Linked DNA regions of Homo sapiens: region 2 is linked to region 1. The links come from fine-mapping of genetic effects on gene expression. A gene starts in region 1. The other region holds a variant in brackets. All regions are shown on one strand. Distances are between the middles of the regions.

Evidence for each region.
Region 2: its variant is fine-mapped to the expression of B3GAT1 in blood mononuclear cells (TOPMed, PIP above 0.99).

Annotation. Positions count from the first base shown.
Region 1 is chr11:134,404,345-134,419,623 of GRCh38, reverse strand. B3GAT1 (beta-1,3-glucuronyltransferase 1) reads left to right here and starts at 7,382. Exons shown (of 6, transcript NM_054025.3): 1 at 7,382-7,817. RefSeq lists enhancers at 8,234-8,793, 14,714-15,215.
Region 2 is chr11:134,375,634-134,390,912 of GRCh38, reverse strand. B3GAT1 (beta-1,3-glucuronyltransferase 1) reads left to right here. Exons shown (of 6, transcript NM_054025.3): 2 at 2,973-3,365; 3 at 6,725-7,233; 4 at 7,907-8,203; 5 at 8,889-8,989; 6 at 10,166-12,405. The coding sequence starts at 3,254. The coding sequence ends at 8,975. GLB1L2 (galactosidase beta 1 like 2) reads right to left here. Exons shown (of 19, transcript NM_001370461.1): 19 at 14,589-15,279. It overlaps LOC124902798 (a long non-coding RNA gene), which reads right to left and starts at 14,117. Exons shown (of 2, transcript XR_007062961.1): 1 at 13,659-14,117; 2 at 12,572-12,849. RefSeq lists an enhancer at 13,553-14,452. The variant G/C (reference allele first, on the strand shown) is at 3,729.

The DNA of each region.
Region 1 (15,279 bases):
ACAAAGCCTTGCATAGGTTTATCAAACAACTGGTGGCCTGGAGCCGGGGACCTCCTCACTGCACAACAGAACTAACTCATGGAAATCGGCTTTCAGTTCTGCCAGTTGGGCCACCATCACACAAAGACAACTGCACCTTGATTTGAAGACCAGGAACCAGGACTCCATCATACCTTCTCTACACCAGGAACTTGCCATCAGCCCCATAGAACACTGTCTTTATCCCCCTGCATTGTAACTCTTCCATTGTCCCTTCTCCCTATTAGACCGTAAGCTCATCGAGGGTAAGTAAGAAGTACTGCCCAGTAACCAGCATCTAGCGGCACCCAGTAAATGGTGGTTAAGTGAGCAAACAAAAAATGGAGGAACTGAAAGATGAGAACATATAGAACTATTGATTTTTACAGACATATAATATGACAAGTTAAAAGGATCTTAAATATCACCTAGCAACCAGAAATGGCCCCCCTGCTCTCTCTCTCTCTCTCTCTCTCTCTCTCTCTCTCTCTGTGTGTGTGTGTGTGTGTGTGTGTGTGTGTGTGTGTGATTACCCTGCCACCCACTCAAGGCAGACATCACTAATTGGTCATGGTGCCCTGTGCTCCTTACCACAGATGTAGCTTCAGTACATTTCACCCAGCTACAACTAGTTTACTGAAATCTGCATCCAGGATAAAACTGATTTGCCATCCCAGATCCAGCTCAGCCCCCTCCTTGGGAACATGAGTCCTCTTAACCTTCTCCAGTCCTTCCCCAAATAGTACAGTTTCCACTCACATGCCTTATCTAGCTGTCACTTTAAAGAAGGTCCTGCCTCTTTCAAAGAAACACAATGACAATGCCTGGAAAAAGGGCTCCGTGTGGATGTCACCTGGCTTCCACAATGCGATGCCTTCCTGCCAAACCCAAGTTCGGCTTCCAGAGTCCTGATACTGCTTACATCCAGATGCGGGAACATATGCCGCGCATGAGTGGAGCTGGCCTCGGTGCTGAAACATGGATATGTATATATGAGACTGTAAAACCTACATTATTGAGGATTTAGGGTGTTTGCTTTGCTGAATGAAGGATTAGAGACCAGAAAGCCCAAAATGACCATCCGTTTGCAGAAAACATAGCTGGAGGATTACAACTGTCAGATGTGTGCTCAAACCCAGGGGGCCCTATTAAAGCTCTCCCTAACTCCCTAGACCCTTAATCTATCACTAGGCTATGGGAGGACAGATCACCAGTTCCCTACAGAGCCCCTGAGTGTTTTCAGCCAGGAAGTCGTAATCAGATAAAAAGCAGTTTTTCCAGCTCCAGGCATGGGTGCAGCCACAGAGGCTTGGGAGCTAATTGTCTGGGCAGTAGGCCCAGGACTTCGATCTTTGGGATCTCAGTGAAGGACCAACCGTTTCATGTTTTGATGAGAGCAGTACCCAGGGTTTCCAGTGGCCTAGCTCCATCATGTTTTCTCAATATCTAAGGAGGGAGGAGCTTTGTCCCTAACACTCAACATGCTTTCTATTCACGGGTCCATATTTCCTCTCTCTCACTTCCCAGAAATCCTGCCAGACTCTTTCTTGTCTCATAAAGCCAACAGGGAAACGTTCTTCAGTCCCGCCAGCTTCCCACAATCAGCCAGGAATCTGCCAGGAAGTATTTGATGTGAGTTATCTCTTTTCCTATCTGGCATAACACATAGTTCAGACCACATGCAGGTTGGGCAAAGGACATCAATGTCCAGTAATTCCAAGTGTCTTTCTTCCCAACTTTGCCACCCTGTTGGCTCCAGGGGAACAGAAAGAAAGTCACCGGCCTGAGTCATCTTGAAATGGAGGAGCGAGATCTTCCAATATGTTGAATTACGCTTCTCAAACCTTTCAGTATGCAGCCTTTCTTTCAGAATATGCCTGAACAAAAACCACTGTTGTAAGTCTGAATTCACCAACAAGTGTTATGGTCTTCTCTTCCTCTTCCATCCAAAAAGTCGCTGTACCCCAACCCCTTGGGTGATCACAAAAAGGTTCTGAAGGCTGCTGCCCACAGGAGACCCCTCTGCCTCTCCCAGTTTTTGACATTTGCAGCAGCCCCTGCCCAGGTCTCAGTGTGGCTTCTCAACAGCTCAGCCTTCTGCCCGGCTCTTCTCCCCTGCAGAAAAATCCGTGGTAGGCACATGGGGAAGGGCAGACAGTAGACAGAAGAATCCGTGGTAGGCACATGGGGAAGGGCAGACACTAGAAGCGAAACACTGAAACCTCAGGCTGGAGAAAACCATGGGACCATAAGCAGGAGCTGGCCCTTCATTTCTGTCTTTCCCACACCTATCAAAATTCCTGGCCATCGGAGCTGCTCAGAATTTTGATGAATGAATAAATGGAATCAGCACATCCATGTGGCAGGACTCCTAGCACCTTTTTTCTTTCTTCCAAATCCCAAAAGGAAAGGGTAAGGAGTCCTTTCTGCAGATGCTCTACTAATACCCAAAGGTCTAGGATGTCTGCCCATCACCCAAGCCACGGAGGGGAGTTTGGGCAGGAAATTAGACGACTCCATCCATCATATTTATTGAACAGCCACTCTCTGGAAGACGCTAGTGCAGGAGGTCACTCACGCACATGAATCCTCAAACTCCAAGCAGAGAGTGTCCTTTCCGCTCCCCATGGCTCTCTCCTCTCTCTCCACTCTCCAGCCTCACCTGCTGCACGTGTTCCTCAAGCACACCAAGCCTCCCGCAAACCCCTCAGGTCGCCTATCGCTGTCCTCCTTGCTGGGCCAATATTCCCCCGGGTTTTGGCTCAAACATGGCCTCTTCAAAGAGCCTCTCCCTGATCCTACCCTCCCAGGACTCTCTCCAGCTCTTGACCCTATTTCTTCCCTTCCTGTATCTCCTCCACCTCTGTTTGTTCTGTGCATTTGCCCATCTATGGACCACTAGCATATAATCCCTGAGTTGTGCTCTGACGATGAGCCTGAGTCCTGGAACTAGGCTGCCTGCCTCAAATGCTGGCTATGTCACTTACTAGGCATGTGACCTTAATTAAATTACCTAAATACTACGCCCCAGATTCCTGACCTATAAATGGAAACTATAATCGAAACTTGTCACAAACAGTACCTTGTAAATAACACCTTACATATGAAATTAGCTAACGTGCATGAAGACTTGGAACCTAACCTGGTGCATACATATAAATGGCCTAATTGAAGTTAACACTCCTAATTGCTGTTGTTTACTGCATGTCTCTGGTGCCCAGCACAGTGCCTGGCATATGACTGGAGCTCAGTAAATATTAGCTGAACACAGGAAAGCATGCACAGATGGGTAAGAGCCTCCAGATGTGTCCGGATAAAGTGCTATGGGACTGAGGGGAAGAGCAGTTCACTGCCAGAGGTGCCTGAGGGTCGGGAGGGCTATAGGAGACAGCACAAGCCACAGAGCTCAGGTTGGGAAAGGCTTCAGTGAGACTTTGGAGGTGTGGGCTCTGCAGAGTAGTTAGGGGATAGTGGGGAGGTCAAAAGGCAATCTGGGTTATTTTCACTTCTGCAAGAGGACAAAGAACGGTCCCAGGTTAGCCTCAGAGATGCTCCCCTAAGTCTGAGGGCTCTGCTCCTATCACCTCTCATCCCTCCCTCAGCCACAGAGGAAAGAAGGCAAAACAAAATGACATGACTGAAGTGTTCTAAAGCCATGTAACTGCACCCTTTCCCTGGAGGCAGAGACTGGAGAGAAGCAGGAGTCAGCCTTTTTGCACCAGCTCAGGAAAGATGCCGGCCTGGCTTCTGAGAAGAGAGGAGGGCAGAGGGAAACCTGTTGACCACATGACCATTTTCAATTTTTTATGGACAAACAAGGGTGTTCAAGATCCAAAGCTCAGACCAGAAACCTAATGAAAGGGAAGAGTTAAAAGGTCTCCTCCTCTTTCTGTATCTGGGCCATGAACTCCACCACCCAAAACAGCACATCCACACACATCCGTCCAGGAGCCACTGTGGGAACAGTTCAGACACGCCTGATAGCATGGCTGGGTCCCTGGGGAGCTCACCCTGCCTGCCGAGGCAGAGGGCAGCTCTTCCTCCTCTCACTCCCCCTGCTCTCTGGCAGCATCTGGGTGTGCCCATGCATGTGCATGTGCTGTCACCCTTGCCAGGGCAATGACGGGAGAGGACGGGCACCTTGTGGGGTGGGATTCCTCACTGAAGAATCCCACTGGGACCTTTCCACTCACATCAGCAAAATCACTGCTATAGATTCCTGGTGAAGGCAAGGGGAGATTGGATGGCCCCCAACAATCAGACTGGCTAAGACGGGTGGGGTGAGGGCCTGGGCCCCACAGGCCAGGGCGGCAAGCAGCGCAGCTGCGTTGCCTCTCTTGGGTGGTAGCTAAGAAGGACGGCACGGCTGAAAAGGCAGTATCATTAGGAGTCTGGAGCAGACCAAAACTCCTGCTGAAAGAGAGGCCAGGGCAGACAGAACCCACGAGGGGAACAATTAACTGATAAGAGTAAACTAATTGTTATTCATATTAAATTAGGGCACAGGTGATTTGGAGAAAACCTACAGACCATCCCAGATGTTTTGCAGGTTTTGCATTGCAGATGACGGTTTTACAGGACTCTTCTGGGATTCAGATTATGGGAAGTGGGCCAGGATCAGAGCGGGGGCAGGGCTCCCGTCCTGCTTAACTACACAATAAACACATAACGGTTTGTCCCAGAGGACAAACCCGGGCTTTGCATACTAAACATGCTGGTGCTAGGCTTTGGGGGCCTCTGAGAAGAGGGGCTCACTACTGGCAGGGAAGGCAGGGGGAGGGGAAGATCAATCATTCAGGGAGACCTTAGAGGTGCTCCAGATGTTTGGAGCAAGGGTCAAGCTGTGAGGATGCACCAAGTCCAGACATGGGAGGGAAGGATTTCCACAGTCCTGCAGAGGCCAAGCAGGAAGACAGGGGTGGGAGTGTGGCTGACCCGGGGGATGGTGTGTGTACACGTGTGTCTGTGTGGGTGCAGGTGCTTCAGGTACATCCGTGTGCAAGCGTTTACATGTGCACATGATGTATTTCAGAGTGTGTGTGTGTGTTCATGTGGGTGAATCTGCATGTGTAGCTGCCTCTATGAGCATGTTTTGTGCCTGCGTAGATGTCAGTACATTTGTGTGTGTCCATACACTTGGGATGTTGCCAAAACTTCCCACCAAAACGAATGGCAGGCTGTTGTCTCTTCACTGAGCCTTATCATGCTAATTTTAATCTCCTATTATTGTTTTAAATTGGCTCTAAAAATTAATACTAAAAATTCTGTAAACAGAGCCTGGAACTAAGATGCAAGACAGGTCCCTTGAAAGCGGCTTTATTATCACAATTGTTCCTGCCAGAATGCTGAGGTAAAGCCGAGAACCCCTGCAGACAGCATCTCCGAGCCACAGCCCAGCAGGACAAGTCGGACCACAGCCCACTTAGTCCAACCCTCTGTTTCATTACTGAAACCAGCCCTGAGGGGAAGTCTTTTGCTAGTGCCTTCAGAATCGGCCTGAAACCCAGGCCTCCTCGTCGCCATGTCCCTGAGCTCTCTTGAGATCACCCCTCATGGGTGTGTTTCCCTGTTGGTAAAATGAGGGTCTGGAACGAGACAGTCTTCACGGTCATTTCTGTCCTCCCATTTGGTGATTGTGTGACTGCGGCTGGCTGGCTTAGCAGAGGAGGGAGGCAATGTGCCCTCCTGGACGGCCTGGCCCCTCCTTGGTGCTCTCTGGTACCCCCGCCCATCCTGCTTCTGCACCTGCCCTTCCCCTCCCTTCAGCTGGTGTGGAGTCTAAGGAGAAGCAGAGTATGGAGACTAGGAAAATACCAGAGAACACCGACTTAGGAAAGGTCTCTTAGCAGAGTCTAAAAGAGAGGGTTGTAGTAGGGGCAGAAGAAGGCGGAGCAAGGCTGGCTGGGATTCCACTCATTAAGAGAAGGGGGAAATGCTCCTGTACCGCAGCAGGAGGTACTGAGGTTAGATTCAGAGGAAGTTTCTTGCCGGCAAAGGGGGCTGTTAAGCACAACAATGAAAGAGCGCACGACAAGGAGGAGCAGTTATCCCTAGAGATAGTCACTAAGGACACTTTCACATGTCTGTGGCATGATACGGACGGTGAGGTGCCTTCCTCCCCTCAAAATCTTGACCAAAGGGGCTGATTCTGGAGTCTCTGCCCCCTCCCCACCTGCACATCCTCAGTGGGAAGAGCAGGGCCCGGCTTGGTCCTAACAGGGCAGGAAAGCTGATGGAAAAGAGGCCCGTGGTCCTCAGCCCCAGCCCATAGCACGGGGGCACAGCTCTGGTTAAGCAGTGCCTAGCAGTGGGGCTGGAACTGGTTTCCCGGGAAGGAGGGAGACCCTAGAGAAAGTACCGACAGTCCCTGGTCCCGCCGCGAACCCCGCCATGGGAGGTGGCCTTCTCCTGGGGCTGTGAAGAGGACACAGCGGGTGTGGCCCGAATACAGGTGTCCAAGAGCACCGGGAGATGCCAACCTCTAAAACGAGTGCAAGGATGGCTTCAAAGTCTCCGACAAGCTGAAGGAGTATCTGGAATATACAGCTCCACAGAGGCACCCTACCAGTGCACCCACATACGTCCAAGTGCGCGCCCACTCACTGGCCTCCGTCCCCCGCCGACCAACACACCGCGGCAGAGGCCCGGGAAACTCCTGGAGATCCCGCTGCCCCCGGCCTCCCCGCGCCCGTCCGCCCACGCAGGCCTCCCGGGCCTCTCTCCGGAACGCCGGGTGCACCGGCCCGGAAGGGGAGGCTGGGGTGAGGCTGACGCGCGGCGGCTCGAGGTGCCCTTCCACGGGGCAGCAGACCCCGTACCCCGGCACGGCACCGTCCGCCCCCACCGGCCACCTCCCATCCGGGGTGCCTGGAGCCAAGGAAGGAGCCGCATCCCCCACCGGCTTCCCAGCTCGGCCTCTCGGTCCCAGAGCGCCGCCCCCCGCCCTCCTGCAGCAGCCCGGCCGGAAACAATCACCCTTTGAGAGAGGCTGCCAAGCTGGGCGCCAGGAGCAGCCAGGATGGAGGCGGGGTGGAATGGGGGTGCAGGCGGGGGCCGAGCTTTAACTCTCGAGAGCCGAGATCTGGGGGTGCGCTCGGCCCCTGCCCGCCACCCCTGCTCCGCCGCCTGAAGCGGGAGCCGCCTCCGCGGGGGACGGTGCCGGGGGAGGGTGGGGGGCGGTGGGGAGGTGATACCAATCCCGGGGGGGGGTCCCCTCGCCGGCCTCCCTCCTCGCGCCCCCGCCTAGGCTGGCGAGGTTGGTACCGACCATTAGCAGCTCGGGTCCCGCCGGCGCTGGCGCGGGCTCGGGGCGGGGGCGGGGCGGGGGCGGAGAGCGGGTGGGGGCGGGGCGGGAGGCGCCGGCAGAGCCGCGGCGGCACCGGCGCATCCGCCGCCACCTCGGGGACTCTGCGCCGGCCCGGTCGGCTCGGCTCCGGCCGCGCGCCCCCCTCGCCCCTCTCGCCCCCGCGCCCGCTCCCCGCTCCCCCTCCCCGCTCCCCCTCCCCGCCCCCCGCCCCCCGCCTCCCTGCCCGCGCCCTCCCTCCCGCGCGCTCCCAGCCTTCGGCCGCCGCCTCGCTGAGCCCAGAACGAGCCGGGCCGGGGCGGCGGGGCCGGGCGGGGCGGGCGGGCGCGCGGACCCCGCGGCTATGAAGTGGCCCCCGGGGGCCCGGAGCCCGACAGTCCCCGGGGAGGGAGCCGCACGCGGCCCAGGGCAGCGGTCTAGGGGCGCCGGGGCCGGGGCGTAGGGGCCGTTGCCCGCGATGGACCGCACCGGAGACGCTCCGGACTCGTCGCCGCAGGTCAGTGCTCCCCGCGCCCCCGCGGGCGCCCCGCCGCGCACAGAGCCCCTTTCTGCGTCCCCATCGGTGCCCACGCCATGTCCTCCCGGGCGCGCGCTGGGGTGTGTGTGTGTGTGTGTGTGTGTGTGTGTGTGTGCGCTGCGCGCGCTGGGGGCAGCTGGAAAGGGGGCCGAGAACCGAGCTCGGGCTGGGAGGCGCTGCTGCCGAGGGGCTGCGAAACAAAACCCGGCACAGCCTGCCCTCGTCGACCGGGATTAGGGGAAGAGCTGGTTCTCAGCAGCTTCTAACAATCGGCCCGGGCTCTCAGTCGTCAGTTCCCGGCCCCCTCAGCAGGTGGTTTCTGGTGGCCGGATGAGGAGTCAGGGGTCAGTCGTCCCCCACCTCCCCACCCCTGCTGCCCAACAGCGCTCTCTGGATCGCTCTCTGGCTCCTGGGCACTGCCAAGTTAACTCTCTTGAGGGGGCCCGAGCTCTGCGGGGCGCGCTGAGGGACCCAGGGGTAGCAAGGGTGGCAAAGGGCCCTTGGGACCTTCGGTGTAGCAAGGAGGAAGGAGGCGCGACCAGTTCACCACCCTCCCATCTGCACCTGGGCTCAGGTCTGAGGTCCCAATCCCTCCAAAGTCAGAGCACACAACTTCCAGAAAAAGGAGGCTGAGAGTTGAGGCAGGAAATAGAGAAGGAAGCCACCAGGTCCGACAGTGCCAGGGTAAGGAGGTGACAGCCCCGTACCAAGCAGCTAAGGTCAAGAACCACCCCCACATGCACACACATGGGAGCCTTGGCCAACTTCCCTGTCCCCTTCCTCCCCCAGCCAGGCCTAGCTGCATGGATTCTTGTAGAAGCTGGAGCTGAAGGACTCTGGACATACAGGAAGGGGACCTTTACTGACAGTTGCTAGCCCAGTGCATGGGCACCTGCATAGGTGGGGTGCCCAATGGGGCCTAGAGCTTGGGCTGTGTAGCACGCACTGTTGAAAATGTTGGGGTACGGATGTCGTAGGGCCTAGCACTGTGCAATGCCTGGATGTGTTTGTGTGGAAATGGGAGGCACATCACTCCCTAAGTTACTAGGGCTGTGGGGCATGTGGCTGCACAGGACTGTTGTTCTAGGGTTTTCTAAGATTTGTCTTCTGTGCTTATGTCGCCCTACCTCTGCTGGTAGCCACTGCAGAGACTGAGACATTTCCTCCCAGAGTCTGCTCAGTTGGTGACCATTAATGGCCTTACTGGACCAAACATCAAGCCTTCCCTTTCTTCCCATGGGGTGAAGACCCTTTCCCAGGGTCTTCAGACAGACTTCTCACTCTGCCCAGTCCATGCCCAGCACTGCCAAAGGTTCCAGAGCTTAGAGACATTTTCCCTCTTCCCCTTTTCATGGAAGCAGAAATACTTGCTAAGGTTAATGGGACTGGGAGAGTTAATGCATCTGTGCCCCATTCAGCACTGGAGCCAGGAGCTCGCTGTTCCTGTTTCTGTGCCTGACCCCAGGATGCTTGGGGATCACTCCAGGTCCAGGTGAGCTGGAAGCTTGCAGGCGCTGTGTTGAATATGTGTGTGTAGGTTTCTGGTTGGGCAGTTACTCACTGTTCCACCAGAAGCAGGGGGCAGGTAAATCACTGAGGAGATAAGCTCCAGCAACAGGATTGGAGCCCGTGGCGGAGACCAAGGAGCTTCACAGGAGGATGCCCTGGGGCAAGCCCAGTTCCTCAGCTTCGGCTTCTGGGGAGACCTGAAGGTTCTCTTAGTGGTTTCTCGGGGATAAGGGGACCAAGTCAGATATACTTTTCCTAGGTGTGGAGCACAGGGTGATGAGGCCGGCCAGGAGCTGGGAGTGTGAGATGGGGAAGAGGATGCACCAACCGAAAGGCTGAGCGGACAGGAGCATGGTGCTCCATTGTTTCTGGAAGAGAGGGATGAGTGTTCCTCTCTGATGAGAATGGAGAGGAGGAGAGGAACGGGCTCAGGAGGAGGAGGAATCCGAGAGAGAGCCTGACTGAGGCAGAGAAAGAGGCAGTGAGACAAGAGACAAAGGCACGGAGGCGCACTGGCGGACAGCAGAGGGAGGCACACAGGCAGAAGTCAGGGCCTCCCTGACTGAGTGGTGAGTTGGGGCAGGCTGGGGGCCTCCCCCTGTTCCCCTACATCGACCTCAGCAATTGTCCACCCCTGCAGGAGGCCCCTCACTAGAGCAGTTGGACATTCTACTGAGGAAGGTGCTTTCCTGTGGCTCTCAGGAATGTGAGGGTCTTTTAGACAGAAGCCCAAAGGCAGAGGGAGGCCAGGCTATGAGGTCAAGCACATCAAGAGCTTGCAGGGACTTTCAGGGACACCCTTCACCCCTGAGCATCTCACAATGCTGAGGGCTCCTCTCCATCTTCTGGCCCTGCCCCAGCCCTCCTGGTCCTGGAATGCAGGGCAGTGGGGAAGGATGTGGGGTCTGGGGAAACCTGGCACTCAGGAGAAGAAGAGAAGTCATGCACCCCCTCCCCAGGCCCCCAGGCAAAAAGACCTTTGGGGACCCTACTGAAGACTAGCCAGGGGACATGGAAGAAGTGCAGTGGGGACAGGCCCTTGGCCAGGCTGTCTGAGGTCCAGTCTCATCTCCATCTGTGGCTAGCCGAGTAGACTTTGAAAAAAACAGAGCTCTCTAAGCCCCGGCTTCCTGGCAGTCTATAAATTGGGAAACTGTCATCTCACCAGTTTTTAGAAGAAATACTAGATGAATTTTAATTTAATCTATTTATTTTATACACCCTCACCCCCTTGCTTCCAGGATGAGGATGGCTCTAGAATTTGGAGTAGCAGCGTCAGGCCAGCCCTGGAGCCAATCCCACTGGAATCGGTGCAGGCTGTCCCACCTCCCTCCTCACCCCACTGGAATAGGTGGAGGCTATCCCACCTCCCTCCTCACCCCACTGGAATCGGTGCAGGCTGTCCCACCTCCCTCCTCACCCCACTGGAATAGGTGCAGGCTGTCCCACCTCCCTCCTCACCCCACTGGAGTCGGTGCAGGCTGTCCCACCTCCCTCCTCACCCCACTGGAATAGGTGCAGGCTGTCCCACCTCCCTCCTCACCCCACTGGAATCGGTGCAGGCTGTCCCACCTCCCTCCTCACCCCACTGGAATAGGTGCAGGCTATCCCACCTCCCTCCTCACCCCACTGGAATCGGTGCAGGCTGTCCCACCTCCCTCCTCACCCCACTGGAATAGGTGCAGGCTGTCCCACCTCCCTCCTCACCCCACTGGAATAGGTGCAGGCTATCCCACCTCCCTCCTCACCCCACTGGAATCGGTGCAGGCTGTCCCACCTCCCTCCTCACCCCACTGGAATCGGTGCAGGCTGTCCCACCTCCCTCCTCACCCCACTGGAGTCGGTGCAGGCTGTCCCACCTCCCTCCTCACCCCACTGGAATCGGTGGAGGCTGTCCCACCTCCCTCCTCACCCCACTGGAATCGGTGCAGGCTGTCCCACCTCCCTCCTCACCCCACTGGAATCGGTGCAGGCTGTCCCACCTCCCTCCTCACCCCACTGGAATCGGTGCAGGCTGTCCCACCTCCCTCTTCACCCCACTAGAATAGGTGCAGGCTGTCCCACCTCCCTCCTCACCCCACTGGAATCGGTGCAGGCTGTCCCACCTCCCTCCTCACCCGCTTGAGTCCTCACACCTCCAGACTCTGGGCTGGACCCACCCTTCCTTATCCCAACCCAAAGAACCCAGAGCCCGCCTTGGCTCAGAGTTCGTCCTTGCCAAACACAAAATAATACTTTCGTGTCTAATTATTGTTAAATGTAATCCTTCCAATTTATCAGCAAATGGTCGTCTAAAAAAAAAAATCTTGACACCAAAATTCCAGATCTGTGAGCCCTTCTTATCCATGCTGAAAGGTGACAGGGTGGTCAGAGAGCCCCCAAAATTCAGTTCACTTGCACCAACACTGACCAAGCACTTACGGTGTTGGAGGCTCTGCACCAGGTGCTGGGAACGTGAAACATCAAATAATCCAAAAGTCCAAATCTAGTGTTTTCTGTTTAGCTTTGGAAGGGTTATGTGGGTTGCTTTTTTTTTTTTTGCAGCTACAGCAAATTTACTTTTCTAATGAGGTTTAGCTCCAGCCAATATTAAAATGAGCCTGCGCTCCCTGCGCACACACCAGCTGACAGCAGGGCAGGAGGCAGCCTCCGCGCCAAGTGCCTGGCAGGGATTAAGGCTTTACCTCTGATAAGCGCAAAAGTGGAGAGTATGAGTCTGGATCAAGAGTTGACTGGATTTGAGGACTAACCTTGCCCAGGGGGCTGTGGATTCCACGGCTCAGTCTTCTGAGCCATGGCAGGAGCTCTCTCTTCTCATACGTGGGAAATGTGAGCCAGCTCTCTGCTCACAGGAAGAAGACCTAGAGGGATGGGGGAGTGGAGACATGACGGCACGGCGTGGGGAGTGCCAATGGCACTGTAGTTGGAGGCCTGGCTCTGCCCGTCCTCTCTGGCTGGCTATGTGGGCTGGGGTCCTCTCCTTCCCCTCTGCCCATCTTGCTTCCTCTGTCTGTGGCAGGTGAGCAATCTGGCCTCTGAGGCCATGAGTCTCTCTTTGAACCCTGGGCTACTCATTTGTCCATTGTTCAGAAACTGTTAGAGCCCCACACTGGGCATGGGGGGCTGCATCCGTCCCCACCCTGAGCAGCTCCTCAGTCACACCAGCCACATTTCAAGTGGGCAACAGCCACATGTGGCTAGAGGCTGCCATCTTGGGCGGTACAGATACAGAACGTTCCCGGCAGCACGGAAAGTTCTAGTGGGCAGAGTGTTGTGGACCTGAGCCTGCACAGGTGTTTTGGGCACGGAAAGTTCTAGTGGGCAGAGTGTTGTGGACCTGAGCCTGCACAGGTGTTTTGGGCACGGAAAGTTCTAGTGGGCAGAGTGTTGTGGACCGGAGCCTGCACAGGTGTTTTGGCAGGGTGGCTAAGTGCCAGGTCCTACTGGCTGGATTCAGGTCCTAGTTCTGCCACTTAGTAGCTGTGTGGCCTCAGGACGTTGCTTAACCTCTCTGTGCCTCAGACTTCTCACTTTTAAAATGAGGGTAATAATAGGATGTTTCTGAGGAGGAAATGAGTCATTACAGTTAATCATGCTAATCACTCAGAGCATGCAACAGCAAGAGCTTTTTTATTTTTTATTTGAAAATAGAAAGCCATTTTTATTATTCATTTATTTAACAATTCACTTAAAGGCTTATTGAAAAGCCCACTCTGCCAGGCCGCCCCCCCACCCACCCAATCAACACAAGTCCTGGCTACCTCTGTGACCCTTCCTGAGCCTCCACCTCCTCCCCTAGGATGGGATTATTCCTGACTGAGTGCTCACTGAAGCCCAGGGAGCTAGAATGAGATGAGGAAAGCAACCTTGCTTTGTGCAGACGCAGCCAGATAGAGGGGCTGATGCTTTTTGGAGGTGAGTGCCACTGAAATTCTGTTTTGTCACTAAAAAGCATCTGCTAAGCCCCCACACTTTCAGAATAAGAGCAGCAAAGGAGGCATGGTTAGCTGCCACCAGCCAGCACCATGTCGAGCAGGGATGGAGGAAGGGATGTGAGAGGCCCCTGCCTGGGCTCACCCCTCCCTGGTCTGGAGGGCGAGAGCCCAGAGGCTGCTGTGGGCTTAGTGGAGGGAGCAGAGCCTGGAGGTCTCAGAGGCCAACTGTGCTGCCACGAGCCCCCCGGGCGCTGGTCCCAGCTGCGTCTGCAACTCACTGTGCCACAGACACTGGTGGGGCCTCAGTTTCCTCGTCTAAGACAGGAGGGACAGGGCTGCATGAGCGTTTCCTCACCTGGAAAAATCACTTCCACAGAGCGACCCAAGCCGGAGGCCAGAGGGAGGGACCCTGCCCACCAAGCCACCAGGGGTGGAAGGTGAGGGCTGGCCTGAGGGGCAGGAGCTGGCCATTGGTAGCCAGGCTGGTGCTGGACACCCCAGGCTACCTGGCTGCCAGCCTTCTCCCAGAAGTTGGATTGTGCAACCCTGGGCTACTCCCTTCTTTTCACAGATGAGGGGACAGACACCCAGAGCAGCCCTGCTCCTGTCTAGGGGCCACAGAGCAATTTCACACAAGGCAGAGGCTGCATGCCCCAGTGCCCTCCCGGGCAGATTGTTGGTACTACTGGCAGGCAGATGTGTGGGGCTGGGGGCTGCCACCCCCGGGGTCGGGGCGCAACGCTGAGACTCCCAGGGCCCCTCACCTCCTCTCTTCTCCCTCAGACGGCTGGACCCAGGAAAACCAACCTCAACTATCCCTGACAGAGCCCTGGGGAAGGTCAGCTCCTTCAGGCCACAGGCGGCAAATTAAAAATACAGACAAACTAATGAAACCCGTGAATTGCTAGCCTGCCAGAGTGTGTCTACGCACCCTGACCACAGGACCTCACCAGGCGGGTGACCATCAGTGGACCCTCCGTGGCTTCAGACCTGGGTTTGGGGCTGCCCGGTGCCTACCTAGCCCGGACCTGAAGCCCTCTGGGTCCCCGTAGCTGATGGGGGGTCCCCTTGGGGGCGTCTTCCGAAGCCTAAGGAGGTCACCACTGCTCTGACACCCTTGAAGATAAGTCCTGACCCCCAAGGAGTGCCGGTGCTGGGTCCCTCTGAGGCAGGGCTGTGGCAAATGCCACCCCCGTGGAGTTGCTGGCAGGCCGTAGGTGCATATCAACAATATCGTCACCCCCCCAGCCCTGCTTGCCTGCCCCAGCCCTTCTTCTTCCCTCCTCTTCCCTCATCCACAGACCACAGAGTGGGAGAGACGGCCGCTCGTGGCACGGGGAGGACACTGAGCCCAGAGAGGCCAAGGGACCGGCCAGTTGCACCCACACTGCAGCTGACCGACACAGGCCCGGCCCAGCTCTGCCAGCCTGCCTGGGCTGAAGTACAGCCTCCGGGCGAGCTGCTTTCCTCACGGTCAGAGAGTTTCTGCGTGGTAGCTGAAGTATTACTCTCCTAACTCATCGCCTGTCGATATTAGCTTCTTCTCCCACACATAAATCTCTCTCTCAGAACAAGTGCTCCAGCACTGTGTCTCTGCGGCTCCCCAGGCCTGAGGACAGCGAGGCGGTTGCAGGCTGTCAGTGGGGCGTGCACACTCTTCCGAGTGGCGTACCTGGAGCCTTGGAGGGGGGCCTCCCGCAGGCATACCTGGTGCCTGTCACCCCGTGATTCCCAGGAAGGTGCATGCTTGAGATCACACACAGACACCCAACCCAGCCGTGAATGCTCACTGAAGCCCAGGGTGCAGGCTCCGAGGAGTGTGCTGTCCTTGACTGTGTCTAAACGGATGTTCTGGATGAATGACAGACTCGTTTTCATTGTTATTTAAAAAACACATAACATAAAACTTACCATCTTAGCCATTTTCAAGTGCACAGTTCAGCAGTGCTGAGTATATTTACATTGTTGTGAAACAGATCTCCAGATCTGTCTCATCT
Region 2 (15,279 bases), 29 kb after region 1:
CCAGGCCAGAGGAAGCATTTGGCCTGTGTGTGCCCCTTACCCACCCTGCGCCTGGCCCAGGTTCGAGAGGCTTGGAGGCCTGGGACCTCTTATCCTATGCCCCCGATGACAGCATAGAGCCAGATGGCCTGGACTCAATTCCAGCTCCACCATTTCCTAATGGTTGACCTCAGGCAAGTTACTCCCCTTCTCTGGCCTCGATGAACCCACAGGGACCACAGCCATGCCTACTGCACAGGGCTGCTGTGACGTTGCAGGAGCAGGTGCATGTGAAGAGCTGAGCCTCATCTTCGGACATCTCTCATGCTATAGGGAAGTTTGTATAAACAACAGTGCAAGCGGGGGCTGAGAGGCTGCCCCAAAGGAAAGGCAGTGGCCCACAGGGACTGAGCTGGCAGGACACTCATCTTCTCTCCTTGGCTTTCTCCATCCTGGTATTAGAACCTGCACCAACACCAGGAGCACTTGAGAAAGCTCCTTCGAGAGTCTCTGAGAACACAGAAGAAATCTTCCTGGACATTTCTGAAGCCCCAGCCAGGCCCAGCCTCCCCATCCTTCATCAGATGTGGCCTAAGATCCAAACGTGTCTTGGCCAAAGAACCAAAACGTGTCTTGACACGCAGCCCCATGCAGCCCCAGCAGTGGCCTGGGTGTGGAGGGACAGGCTAAATCTGGGGGATGTGGCATGAAGTCACTTGCATCTCAGACCACAAGACCCAGCAGGCATCCCGTGTGGGGTTCTAGGCTCTGTCCCTCACTGGGCCAGCAAAGAGGAGTTTACGGGCGGACACAGACACACACGGCCTAGAATGTCCACTAGGGGAACTACGTGCCTGTGACGTTGAACCCCAGTGGGTCTTCCACTCCCCGGGGAATGGGTGGGGGAGACTCTCTGGATGGAGTGGGCCTCTGATGGCGGGGTGTGGGCAGGGGATGCCGGCCGTCCTGGGAAACCACAGTGCTCCTTAATGGAGGGGATGCCGGCCGTCCCGGGAAACCACAGTGCTCCTTAATGGAAGACAAATCCTGGTCTTCCACAGGCGTCAGAACTATTTGGAGAGAGGACCCGGTGAGGAGAGGAAAACACGCTATTTTGGAAACTCAGGGGCTAAAAACCCTCCTCGGCCATAGCACTCGACTCTGCCTGAAATGGTGAGCACACGTGAGCTGGGGCAGGAGCAGGCAGCATGGCCCCCAGGTGAGGTACTGTCCGTATCCAACACTGGGCACTGGGACGGGTGGGCACAGTGAGGCTGGCTGGGCTGCCCGAGGCTGCCTGCCCTCCCCACCACCCCCACGGGTCCCTGCTGCATCATGCATGGTGCTCAGCACAGAAGTGAAAAGGGAGGAGAAGAGGATGTGACAGTTTCCAAGGCGGTCAGGAGGTCTCTTCGCCCAGTGTCCTTGCCATGTGAGAGAACGGTTCCCAGAGATGCTACCAGTGGACCCTCTGCAGGACTGAGGAATCCCAGTGGCTCATTCTCCTCACTTGGGCCCCCTGCTGTTCTCATTTTGGAGGACTGTCTCCCCTCAATGTGGCAGCCCCTGCGGGGACCCCTCTTCTTGCTGCTGCCCAGCCCAGCACCTGGTGCTCTGTCCTGCACAGAGCGGTGCTCCACAAGGATGTCCTATTGACACGGAAGAGGAAGGCACTCTCGTACTTCCCCCCAGGGACCATCCCAGAAACATCTCTTCTTTGTCCTCAAAAGACTGTCACCAAAATGCAAATTGAAACCACAGTGAGATACTATCTCACACCAGTCAGAATGGCTATTACTAAAAAGCCAAAAAATATTAGATGCTGATGAGGCTGCAGAGAAAAGGCAACACGTATACTCTGTTGGTGGGAATGTAAATTAGTTCAGCCACTATGGAAAGCAATTTGGAGATCTCTCAAGAACTTAAAACAGAGCTGCCATTCTAGCCAGCAGTCCCATTACTGGGTATGTATCCAAAGGAAAATAAAGTGTTTCACAAAAAAAACACCTGCACCTGTATGTTCATCGCAGCACTATTCCCAATAGCAAAGGCATGGAATCAATCTAGGTGCCCATCAGTGGTGAACTGGGTAAAGAAAACATGGTGCATATACAGCAAGGAATACTACACAGCCATAAAAAAGGACAAAATCATGGCCTTTGCAGCAGCCTGGATGCAGCTGGAGGCCATTATCCTGAGCAAATTGACACAGGAACAGAAAACCAAACACGATGCATTCTCACTTATGAGTGAGAGCTAAACACTGGGTACTCATGACTGTAAACATGAGAAGAATACACACTGAGGACTCTCAAAGGAAGAACGGCTGAAAAACGCCCTGTTGGGTACTATGCTCATACCTGGGCAGCGGGATTCATCATACTCCAGATCTCAGCATCACATGCAATATGACCCATAACAAACCTGCACATGTGCCCCCAAATCTAAAATGTTGAAATTATTTTTAATATAATAATTCGTGGTCCATATATGGTTAAAAAAAAGAAAAAAGAGAGAGAGAAAATAAAACCTCTCACCCCTTTATCCAGGCTTTGATAAGTAGCTGGCATTTTAGGGCTGCACGGGAGTTACCCTGTTTAATTCTGAGAATGACCTTATGAGGTAGGGATCCACAGTGCCCCATTTTATAGATGGGAAAACTGTGGCATGGAGAACGGAAATGACTTGGCAAAGGTCTTACAGCCTGTGGGTGGCACAGTTGGGATTTAAACCTGGTGTCTCTGCAGTCTGTGCTTCTGACCCCTGCACCCTACTGACTTTCATAAATGGAGCAGAGCCATGGCCCTGTGCCTGTGGGAAGGACAGAGCCCATTCCACTCTAACAGGCAGACAAAAGAGGTCCTCAGGTGATGGACAGTTGAGGCTCCATTGTGGAACCCCCGATGCTGTGTGTCCCAGAGCAGGGCCCAGCCTTGCTGGCATCCATTCCTATACCTGGGTCTCTGGCTATCCGCTTCTGCTCTCTCTTGCAGGTGTCCACCCCCCAGGGTTCCTGACCCCTGCCCCTGGACAGCGACCCCTTCTCAGACTCCAGTTGGGCCGGACTCTCCAAACCTGCTTCCGCAATGGGTGGGTTGTGAGTGCTGGTAAGACCTGCTAGCCAACATTCAGCTGCTCTGTCCTCTCCATGCCTGGCCGGCCCGGCCCATGCCTGTTCTTTTCTCCCCTGTGCTGCCGCCGCCCGTGGCCGCCCCTCTCCTGAACTTACCGCCACTCAGGTAATGAGGAGCCGTGGGTGCAGCCAGCCTTGGAGATGCCGAAGAGACGGGACATCCTAGCGATCGTCCTCATCGTGCTGCCCTGGACTCTGCTCATCACTGTCTGGCACCAGAGCACCCTCGCACCCCTGCTCGCGGTACATAAGGGTGAGCACGCACGCATGCCCTGCCTGCCCAGCTGGGCCTTGGTAGTGACAGTGACCACAGCTGACACGCAGGGTTCTTGCTTGCACTCACTTAGCAGCTAGGAGGAACCACGGGATCATCTAGGCCCCTTCATGAGTCTTGCACCCCTTTGGGAATGGGAAGCTAATGGAAGCTACCCACACAGTTTTAAGATGCCTGGGATGGTAGGTTGGCAGACACCAAGACAGTTGCCTTGAAAGAAGAGCTTGTTACTCTCAGCACCCAAGAGGAGGGGGCACGCCCTGCCCCCTGGGGAAGTGCTGAGGTCGGAGGTGGGAAGTGAAGGGAGGGGGAGGTGGGAAGTGGAGGGAGTGGGAGTCTTTA[G/C]TGTGGTTTTGGTAGGAAGGAAAGTGGTTTTCATAGGAAGGGAAGGGCGAAGCACTGTCGGCAGCTGAGCTGGCCCAGAATTGCATAGTCTGAAGAAAGTCAGTGGGTTTAGGATATGGGTGTGGTTTCTAATTGTCTGGTATCGCCCTGGGGTGGTTTAGGGCAGCGGAAGATTGGCTTGGGTGGGAGAGCTCCATAAAGGTGGTAGTGGGTATGAGCTCTAGATCAGGTAGTTTGCATATGAAAAGTGTGTTTGCAGGCAAGGTGTGTACTGTCACTAGGAATTAGCTAGTCCCGGGAGGGGCAGTCCCTCCCCATATCTGCAAGTCCCCCAAGATGTCGACGCATCTTAAAATACAGAAAAACTTAAAAAACAAACATCATTAATACACACACATACACAGAAAGACACGCATGTACAACTTCACATGCCATTTCATGACATGCAAGGAAAGCGACCATTCTGAAGTGGATGGTGGGGGAGGAATAGGATTTCTGGCCTGCAGTGTGTTTTAAACCCTTTCACAGAGAGTATATTGTTTGCCTCTCTTCTTTTCCTGTGTAGGAAACCCTGATCTAGTGCTACCTGGTGGAAATAGGGCTGGAGAGAGGAAAAGTCCCGTGAAGAACTAGTGGAAGAACTAGGGGTAGAACTCCTTTCCCCTGGCTCTGGGTCCTGGGTCGCCTTTCCCTCTCACTCCCAAACCTGCCACGCACCCCACAGCTGGCTGCCCCAGCTCTTCAGCACTTTGTCTCGTGCTTTTCTGCCCCCTCCCCCACTTACATGCACAGGCTCACGTGGGGTCAGGCAGCTGTTCGTTTGCAGCGTGCATGATACCACCTGGCAGTGTGATAAACAAGAAGGCAGCACCAAGCCCATGCAGAGAGAGGTGGTGAGTGCCTGTAACCCCAAGATGCAGGCAGTGTCCAAAAATCACAGCCTGAAGTCGTGCTGCTCCTCACAGTCAAATACCAAGTCCTGCAAACCCATAGCTGTTCCTGAAGCTTCCATGAGGAAGGGCCAAGCTCAACATTGCGGCAGCCCACTGCCCGTGGCTGGCACTTGGCGCCTGTCTTCCTGACATCATCCTCTCCTCCCGACCCTAGGGCCTCTTCTCTGTGCTTGTCAGTTCAGAATCATTGTTATCTTGCAAATACATCACTCCAGAGGGGTTAAAACTACTATATATAAAGCGACATGATATCGTGTCGATTGCGTTCTTGGCAGAGCTCCAGCGCTGGAGACGTCAGGCTGTTTGCTAAGCACTGATGGTGCTGCCTGAGGCTGGGGACTTGGCATTCTGTCTCCCCAGAGCATGCCAAGAGCAAGCGAATGAAAGCTGCAGCTGAGTGAAGTTAGGGTCACCAGGAGGCCTTTAGGACCCAAAATTGCAGACGCCCTGAAGCCAATGGGAAGGGCGAAGCCCAGGAGCACACGCAGTAGCCGTGCCCTAATGTATGGGGACTGTCCAAGGGCACAGGTCCTCTGCGGCCTTGGGATGATTTGGGTGGCAGAGAGGTGGACAAAGTGGCTCCAAACTTCCTCTCAAGGCCTCAGTTTCCAAAACTTGACTGCCCATAGGATGAATTAAGTCCTCTGTCTAGGTCAGAACCCTAGACACCCATCCCGCTTTCTTCCACGTTGCTCTTCTCACAGTTTGACCCCAGACTCCTCTAAGCAGCCCCCTCTGAGCGACTGCGTGTGTGCTGGTTTCCTCCCCCGACCCTCAGCAATTGCTGTGTGCCTGGTGCCATTTGCCCATGAGAACTCCTGAAGAGCCACGAGCAGGCCTCCTGGGTCCGTTCAGATGAGCTCCACGCTAGCGTGCCACACACCCCACATGCTGCCGATGACAGTGGCCGGAGGGAGGCAGCAGAAGAGCTGATGCCCGGGGTCCTCCCCTTTGGTGTGACTTGCTGGTTCTGTCCCCACCGATTGCCTGAAGCCAGAAGGAAGCAGAGTTGGCCACTGCCCTTCCGCAAGAGAGGAAACTGTGCCTGGCGGTGCTCTCAGCCCTTGTGGACTCATTAATCCACATAATAACTCGATAAGTTCGATGCTATTATTAGCTCCATTTTACAGTTGCTGAAATTGAGGCGCCAGAAGCTAAGCAGCTTGCTCAAGGGCACAGGGTTCGTAACGGCAGAAGTGGGCAGGGTCTCAGCCCAGGCACCGGGATTTCTTACCTTTACCACCCGACGGTAAGCTAGGACAGGAGGGCCACACCGTCATTGGTGCATGAGCCCTTCCGATGGAAGGACAGAATTTGGAGAGAAGGGACGCATGGAAAACAAGAATCCCAATGGCCCTGATTTCTCCTCTTGCTAGGACTGCTAGATCTACATATACCTTGGCAACTATGGGCAAAACCCACGAGAATAAAATGCGGTGAAATAGGAAGTTCTGCACCGAGATTCAGAGAATGCCTTACGTAAGGCCAGGAGGGAAGAGGCCCCGCTTGACTGGAGGGCTTGAGAACTCCGGGAGCTGCCTCAGGCTCCTGCGGGCCCACAGTGGGCCCTGGTTGCTGCCGCAGTGCTGCGGCCCTGGGGCTTTGTGGCGTCCACACCACAGCGGGGCAGTGCCACGTGCTCTGCTAGCCCAGCCCTGCACAGGGCAGTGTGGCCAGCTCCCTCCAGATGAGTAGGGCTAGGGAGGGGAGGGTCGGGACGCCTTTTCATAGGAAAGTCAGCACATTCAGGAACTGAGGATGCAATCTTGGAATATGGGCAACTGCGCTCAAATAGCTAGAGGGCTGCAAAGGTGGGAAGGAAGAGGTTATGTCTGTGTCATCAGAGCTAGGACCCTCCCAGAGAGGATTCCAGGGCTGCAGATTTCAACCTTAGAGCTAACAGGTCAGGCAAGGCGGGGGTCTGAGCAGCCCCTGCAGCGGGGGAGGAGGAGGGTGCCCTGGCAGGGTGGGTGGCGTCCCGCTCTGAATCCAGGGCCGTAGCCGGCGCTCTCCTCCCACATCGCCGGTCTCCCGACTCCGCAGATGAGGGCAGTGACCCCCGACGCGAAACGCCGCCCGGCGCCGACCCCAGGGAGTACTGCACGTCTGACCGCGACATCGTGGAGGTGGTGCGCACCGAGTACGTGTACACGCGGCCCCCGCCATGGTCCGACACGCTGCCCACCATCCACGTGGTGACGCCCACCTACAGCCGCCCGGTGCAGAAGGCCGAGCTGACGCGCATGGCCAACACGCTGCTGCACGTGCCCAACCTCCACTGGCTGGTGGTGGAGGATGCGCCGCGCCGGACGCCGCTGACCGCGCGCCTGCTGCGCGACACCGGCCTCAACTACACGCACCTGCACGTGGAGACGCCCCGCAACTACAAGCTGCGCGGAGACGCCCGCGACCCACGCATCCCGCGGGGCACCATGCAGCGCAACCTGGCCCTGCGCTGGCTGCGCGAGACCTTCCCGCGCAACTCCAGCCAGCCTGGCGTGGTCTACTTCGCCGACGACGACAACACCTACAGCCTGGAGCTCTTCGAAGAGGTGAGGGAGGGCCCGACAGTGAGCAGCGGGACCTCCGGCTGCGGGGAGTGGAGGGGCTTCCCGAGAAGGGGGTGTGGGTGCGGAGGCGCGCGCAGGGGGAACCCGGGAAGCCGGGCTGGGAGCGGGGCAGGCAGCAGAGAGCCAGGGAAAGGGATGGAACTGCGGGCTAAAGCATCCCCCACAAGTTAGGGGGAAGACAGGTGGCTCTGGAGCCCCTAAACCATATTCCTGGCCCTAGAGGTATCTCCTGAATGGGTTTGTGAGTAGGTCATTCTGCGTGACTACCAGAAACCTCTTAGGTGGAACAGTTGGAGCTCGCCTGAGTATATGGGCTGTGTTAGTCTCGGGGACAAGGGGAGTCACTTCACACTCTAGAGCGGGGAGACTGAAAGGTTTTAGACAAGGGAGAAAACAGCAGCAGGGCCACGCTGAGAAGGGGAAGACCAGGCCGTCTGAGAGGTCAGGTGTCCCCGGCAGCCCAGGGCAGGTTCTTCTCAGGTGCCCAACCCATGGGATGGGTCCTGGGGGCAGGGCTGTACTGGACACCCCCTAGGTGGCCGCGGCTGGCCATGGGCATAGATAGAGGTGGCTGAAGGATGTCGCCTCCCTTGGGCACGCGCGGCCGTCCTCATCTGCAGTGCCGGCGCCCTGACTCTGGACCCCCCCCTTGTAGATGCGCAGCACCAGGAGGGTGTCCGTGTGGCCCGTCGCCTTCGTGGGTGGCCTGCGGTACGAGGCCCCACGGGTGAACGGGGCAGGGAAGGTGGTCGGCTGGAAGACGGTGTTTGACCCCCACCGGCCATTTGCAATAGACATGGCTGGATTTGCCGTCAACCTGCGGCTCATTCTGCAGCGAAGCCAGGCCTACTTCAAGCTGCGAGGTGTGAAGGGAGGCTACCAGGAAAGCAGCCTCCTTCGAGAACTTGTCACCCTCAACGACCTGGAGCCCAAGGCAGCCAACTGCACCAAGGTGAGACCCTCCGCAGAACTGACAGCTGTGATGCAATGTCTCAAGTACATCCAGACCCTCCCTACAGATCGGGAGAAGGAAACAGAGGCCTCAAAATAGCCTGGGCTTTCTGGAACCCCCTCCCAGGAAGGCAGTGTATCACCTGTAAGGCAGCGACACTGCGGACAGGCAGGGAAAGGGAGAGCAATGGCCACTGGGGAGTTATAACCTCCCACAGAACAGCCGTGCTCCAGCACCTCCCTGCTGAGCACTCATGCACACACACATGCCTACGCGTGCACACATGTGCGCACACACACATGCAGATGCACACACATGCACACATATATGCAGGTGAACATGCACAGACATGCACATATACACATATGCACATGAACATGCATACGTATGCACACACACACACTTGGGAAGTCTTGGGGCTTCTCTTTTCTGTAGTTCTAGACTTCCCATTTCCAGCAGGTATTCCGAAGGCATCACATGTAAAAACAGCAAAAATGAGGGGGTAGTCGAGAGCCACAGAAAATAAATAAAAAACAATTGAGAAAATCTTGATGGAACAATTGAAAAACTCTCGAAGGAAAAGGAGGGGCAGGAGAAATGTTTACACAGTGTGGGAGGGAGCAGGGAGGCAGCAGAGTGAGGTCAGGGGCCTGTCCCACCATGTTTTGCATCTCTGGGCACACAGATCCTGGTGTGGCACACACGGACAGAGAAGCCAGTGCTGGTGAATGAGGGCAAGAAGGGCTTCACTGACCCCTCGGTGGAGATCTGAGCCTCAGGATGCAGGTATGGGCATGACGAGGGTGGGCCACACACTGGGCAGGGCGGCACCAGGTTGGGCCGAATCAACTGTCTCATTCTTTTCCTCTTGGGCTTTCACTGTGGAGGACAGGGCAGATGTGGGCAGGAGTGGAGGGCGTCGTCACCACAGTCCCCTTCCCACTGGGCCACCTGAAAGTATCCAGGCATTAACTTTCACCCACGCAGCTGGGTCCTTCTGCCACCAGACTCTTCAGAGGGTGTCACCTTCCAAACATCTTGCTGATTTTTCTGCTGGCAGTGACGCCTGCACCCCACAAGGCACTGCCATTCAGACTCTCGCTGGCCAGCGTCTGTCCCCCCAAGTCTGCCTCTTCCCCTGTGGATTCCTTCACCACGTGGCCATGGTGAGGACTCACGGACTCGCTGCTCCACAGCAATGAGCCCACGGCTGTCATAGTGAGAGGTAGCGCAGAGTGACAGCACGGACCCAGAGCCCACCTCAGCTCCCAGGACCCCTGCTCTTCACTGTTTGACCTGACTTGACTTTTCTGGGCCTCAGTTTCTTCATCTGTGAAGTAGGTTGCTGAGAGCACCTAGAACAGTTCATGGCACTTAAATCTCATCAGTGTGGCTATTTTTATTCAAGTCTTTAAAGCCCTCTCTGGAAGTAGGCCACAGGATCCACCTACACTTCAGAAGCAAAGAAATGATGTTGAGAGAAGCTAAATGAATGTTCCAAGGTGACACACTGGCACGAGTGAATTGTGCTGGGTGGTTGGCAAAGCCAGGCATTTTCAGGGGCTTTTCTGTGATCTTATCCTGTCTCTTAAAAGCAGCTGGTACTCCTGACTCCCTACTCTAGGTTATGCCAAACAGAGGTTGAGGCCTGAGACAGACATTTGTCCTCTTGCCCTGGAGCTAAGCAATAGCTTCTGTATTGTGTTTGCCCGCAGAGGACCACAGGGTGTCACTCAGTCACCTTGGCCAGCGCCACTTAGAATGCATCTGTACCGAGCCTCACTTCTGCCTCCTGCCCTCACTGCCCTCACTGGAAGCACCTTCCCCACCTGCCCCTCAGAAAGGCCCCCACAGGACCTGGGGGCCTGGGCTTTGCAGAGGTCCTGGTGGCCCTGCCTGGCCATTCCCTCCCCGGCCCCACCCTCAGCCGACACCTCACTCATTCCTCCTCTCCCCTCACAGGAGCCTCCTCCTCAGACCCTGTTCTTGGCCTTCCATCCTCTCCCCACGGCTGATGGTCCCTCCAAGGCCGACTCCTAAGGAATCACCATCACCCTCCTTTCTATTCTGGGGGCTTCTGAGAGAGCCCAGCCTGATGCCAGAACAAAGGACAGAGAATTTAAGCACAGAAATCCCAGACCTGTTGTTCTCTCCATCCAGCGTGACCAGGGCCCGAGAGACCTGATGGCCAGGGTGGGGTGTCCAGCACCAGCCAAGCTGGTGCTCCAGCGCACCTCCCCAGAGCTCCCCGCACTGACGGGGCTGCAGGAGCAGGTGCAGTGGGCGCCCACACTGGCCCTGCAGTGATGCAGGGCGGGAGGGAGATAAGAAGACCCCGCAGTCAAGTGGAGCATGGCCCTCCCTGGCTCCCTGTCCCTGGGCTCAGCACGACCACACAGGACACCCAGCCAGGGAATTCTGAAGACCAGAGAGCAGCCCACGGGCATCACGAGCGCTCTGCTCCTCTCCTGGGCCCCTGCTCTTCCCGAGAGCTGCCCCCAAATCAGACATACCTCTGTGGCTCTCCTCTGGTTCACGTTTACAGAGCATAAGGCTGTCTTGGATCCCAACAGGCACCCAGCCCTGCATGGGGGGAGCCTGGGCCTAATAGGCACCCCCTGTACCTCAGGCTGTGGCGGGAGCAGAGTCCCCCCCTCCGGCCCCTCTTCCTTTACCCCTTCTCCTCCAGCAGTGGCAAAGGGGTAGGCTCTAGAGCCAGCACAGGTCACTGCCTGACCTGGACTAAGAACCCCACGGCCCCACTGTCCACACACTGCCTCCCCACCGCCCACCTCGGCTGCTAGGCCCCTCGCCTGGACTGGACTGGGGAGGGAAAGCGCCTTTTCCTGCAGCTCTTCAGAGCCACAGACCTCAGGGTGGAGTGAGCCCATGGTGGGCAGTGGGCAAGGCGGTGGGTGGTGGGCAAGGTGGGACCTCCTGCAGCCTGGAAAGAGGAGGGAGGCCAAGGCCATTCCCTAACTCCCTCCTGCCCCTGGTCTGAGGAGGAGGGACTCTGGAGTAGCAGAGGGGCTGGGAAAGAGGGGGCAGGGGCTGCTGGGACACTGAGCAGGAGGGAGGCCTGAGCACACTGCTTTGGAAATTATTCTAAACACAAAAAAGGGAAAGAAAATGTTATTTCTCCCTAAGTCAGGAGCATGCAGAGCTAGCCCACCTCATGTCCAGCTGTCCACTTTCCATCCTGGAGAAAGAACAGTGTGCCTCAAACTCCTGCCCTCCCCAGGCCTCTGGGGCCCACTGGAAAGGGCTCTGACCCCCTGGCCCAGCCGGGCTCTCTAGTGGTGATCCGGCTCATTCTCCTGCAAGTTGGAAGCACAATTTTCCCCCCAAGTGGAGGAAAAGGAAAGGGCCCCAGCCTACTGAAGAGGTGTTTATTTTTTAACTAACAGCCTCCCACCCCATTAAGACTCACCAGGAGAGGTCTGAGGGCCATTCAGAACCCACTCCTGAGTGGGTGGGTGGGTGGGACTCAGTCCAGAGACCTAACATTCAGAATATAGCATTGGTTGCCTATTTTGAGATGGATTTAATCTCCCACAGTATTCATGAGACCATCTGATGGAATCAGATCCCTGAGCCACCTTGCAGGACGTTTTCCCCAACCTCTTACACCCTGGATGTCACTTTGGAAACCAAGCCCTTGGAAGCAAGTGGGGTGGCATGGGAGAGAAGGGAGGAGGTGGGCACAGGTGGTGAGCTTATGTGTGGGCACTCTACTGCCTCACAGAAGCCAGCCAAGTGCCAAGGTCAGCTTGGCTGGTCTGAGGCCACCTTCTTAGCCAAAAACCTAGGGTTCATTTTCAGGACTTTGATAATGAACAACAAAATGGGGACTTCTTTGGGCAGATGCTAGGTCAGTTGTTTTCACCTAATATCCTCTTTTAGCTGCATGTATATTTATTTATAATTATAACCCTGGTGGACTGCAGCCTTCATCTTTATTGGGAATGAGTTTGTTATAAATCAGAAATGGGTCCATGATGACCACTGTTTTCCAAACCCAGTCTGTTCCCTGCTCCCTCGCTGGCAAGCCCCACCACACAGGAGTGAGGCCAGGGGCTAGGAGTTCTAAGAACAGAGGCTGGGGTGAGGGTGGCACCCAGGCAGCTGCATCTGGTCTGTTTTAATTTAACTGTATTTAATTTGCTTTCAAAATTAAAAGTCAAATACAGTTTTTAACAGTCCTAATCCTCTTCAGCCCTGCCTTATTTTGTTCTCATTTATTAATTTAGCTACCCAACAAGTATGTATCAGGTGCCTGTTATGAACAGGCATCATTCTAGGAGCCGACACACAGCAGTGAGAAAACAAGGCTCTCATTTTCAAAGAACTGACCCACTGACGAGAGGAGACAGGCAATAACGAATGCATATTATTTCAGATGCAATCTGTTGTATGGAGGATGAGGGTGAGTCGGGGAGACAGAGGTAGCAGTGGAGAGGGTCAGTGCTCTGTAGGGTGACCACAGAGGCCTCCGTGATAAGTGACCCTTGAGCGAAGCAGCAACACCCTGACATGCAGCTCCCCGGGCCCAAGAAGAACGAACTCTCCACCAGGCGGAACAAGCGTTGCTCAGCCTGCTTACAGATCAGCAGGAAGGCCATCGGGCTCAACTGACGGGGCGGGGGCTGCTGGGGGCAACAGCAGTGAGGGATGTGGTGGGCGTGGGAGAAGGGAGTCCCCAGGCACCGGGTGAAACCAGAAGGCAATAGGGGGTCCAGTACGGAGGACTAACATAATCTATCCATCTCTAAGAAGAACTGCCCTGCTCCTCCACGGAGGATAAATGGAGAGGGCAAGGGCAGGTGGAGACGTGGCTCCTGGAATCATCCAGGCCAAGATGCAGTGGGCTGAGTGGGGGCATGGGGTTGGGGCAGAGAGAAGCAGTCAAATTTTGGCCAAGTTTAGGAGGCAGAGCCAGGAGGATCTGCTGCTGGATTGGATGTGGGAGATAAAGAGAGGGGTCCAAAATAGCCCGAGACACAGAACAGCACTGCCATTTCCAGATACAGGGCTGCGTGCAGGAGGGGTAATGTGGGGAAATGGAGCTCTGTGTCAGGTGCCTGTTAGACACATGCAGAAGAAAATGCGCCCCCACACACCTGGAGCTCAGGTGCAGCCCAGCATCGGCGGGCGCGGGTGTCCAACCTGTTTACAAACCACAGGTGCACGGGTGAGACCCTATGCAGTGAGTGTGGACAGAGGAAAGAAACAGCCCAAGGAGTGGGCCAGAGACCCCCAGCATTCAGAGGCTGGATATGAAGAGGGATTCTCCAAAGAGACCTAGATGAGGCCATACCGTGTGGAAGATAATGGAAACATCTTTAGTCAACGCTGGAGAATAAGCTCTGCCAAGAGGTACTTTGATAGAGAAGCTGAGCAATTAACTGGCAGAAAATAAGGGTGAGAATAAGAAGCTGGTGTAGGAAGACCTCACCTTAGGAAACCACAGTGTGTCCTGCTCAGGTCTGCGTGGAAGTGTGATCCAAGGGGCTTCTCCACCTTACAGGAGGATTTGCAGGAAGGTTCCCTTCCATTCCATCACTTTCTGACGGAACCAGCTCATACACAGCTCTGCAGAAGCACACACTCAGGTAAAGCGGGGCAGAAGACCCTGCAGGTGGCTCAGGCCACACCCAAGTAGCCCGAGTCTCATCCACATCTTAGCCCCATGCTTGTCGTTCCGAGGCAGTTCCAGAAGAACTGGTGAGTTTGGGCAAAACCAGGGACTCTGCCCCATGTTGTTCCCAAGCCACTGTCCACAAGCTTTCCTTTAATAAGCTCCATTTAATAAGCCCTTGACCCGGCTCAGCTGCTGGGCTGCACACCACGAATGTCCCCTGCACTCCCCCTGGGCAGCCACACACGGGCAGCAAGCCTGCTGGCCTCAGTGAGCTCCACGGCTCACCATCCCCCAGCCCACCTTCACGGGGCTCCCAGAGCTCTCGCTGTGCCGGGGATGTGTGTGCTACTTGACTTTCTGACTCTTACTGGAGATAATTTGGTTTTGGCAGTAGATGCCAGATGTAGTTTGTGAAGCAAAACTCAACCCCGCAGTTAACTCATATGGAGCGCCCTTGACTGCCTGGCAGATTCTTACCCCCGCCCACCAGCATGAGAATGAATTTGCATTTGAACTGTCCTCTCCAGGGCACTTCCAATCCAGAGACATTTGAAGGGAAGTCGGGGTCAGGAGGGGAATATGAGGCCAGGATCATGGCCCACCCACCCCAGGGACGGTCCCCATCTGGACCCCCAGGCGGCAAGTGGGGCCCAATGGGAACCTGACCAAGAAAACCAAGCTCTCAGACAGCCTTCCCTTCTGGCAAGAGTGGCACACATGACCAGAGACTATCACCAGAGGGGGTGTGATTCAAGGTTATAGCTTTACTGCAACTCAGGACAGTGAGCCCAAGCCAGGTGTTGGGCTGGGCCCCAGAACAAGGCTCAAATGCGGACTTGGACACACTTCGAAGGAGGGCTGCTCTGCCCCTGCTGTTCGGGCGTGGGGGGTGGGGGGCGGGGGCCACTGAGCTGGGCCTTCTGTCCTCCTCCCTGGATGTGCAGACATGGGCCATGGCTTCTGCCAGGACTCACATGTGAGCTGGGCCTTCTGTCCTCCTCCCTGGATGTGCAGACATGGGCCATGGCTTCTGCCAGGACTCACATGTGAGCTGGGCCTTCTGTCCTCCTCCCTGGATGTGCAGACATGGGCCATGGCTTCTGCCAGGACTCACATGTGAGCTGGGCCTTCTGTCCTCCTCCCTGGATGTGCAGACATGGGCCATGGCTTCTGCCAGGACTCACATGTGAGCTGGGCCTTCTGTCCTCCTCCCTGGATGTGCAGACATGGGCCATGGCTTCTGCCAGGACTCACATGTGAGCTGGGCCTTCTGTCCTCCTCCCTGGATGTGCAGACATGGGCCATGGCTTCTGCCAGGACTCACATGTCCTCCTCACTGAACACCAGAGACACCTGCTAACTTGGGAAGACGCAGGGTGAGGATTTCTGTTTCTCCAGCCCAGCCTGTCACCCTGTGGGAAGCAGCGAGTGGGAA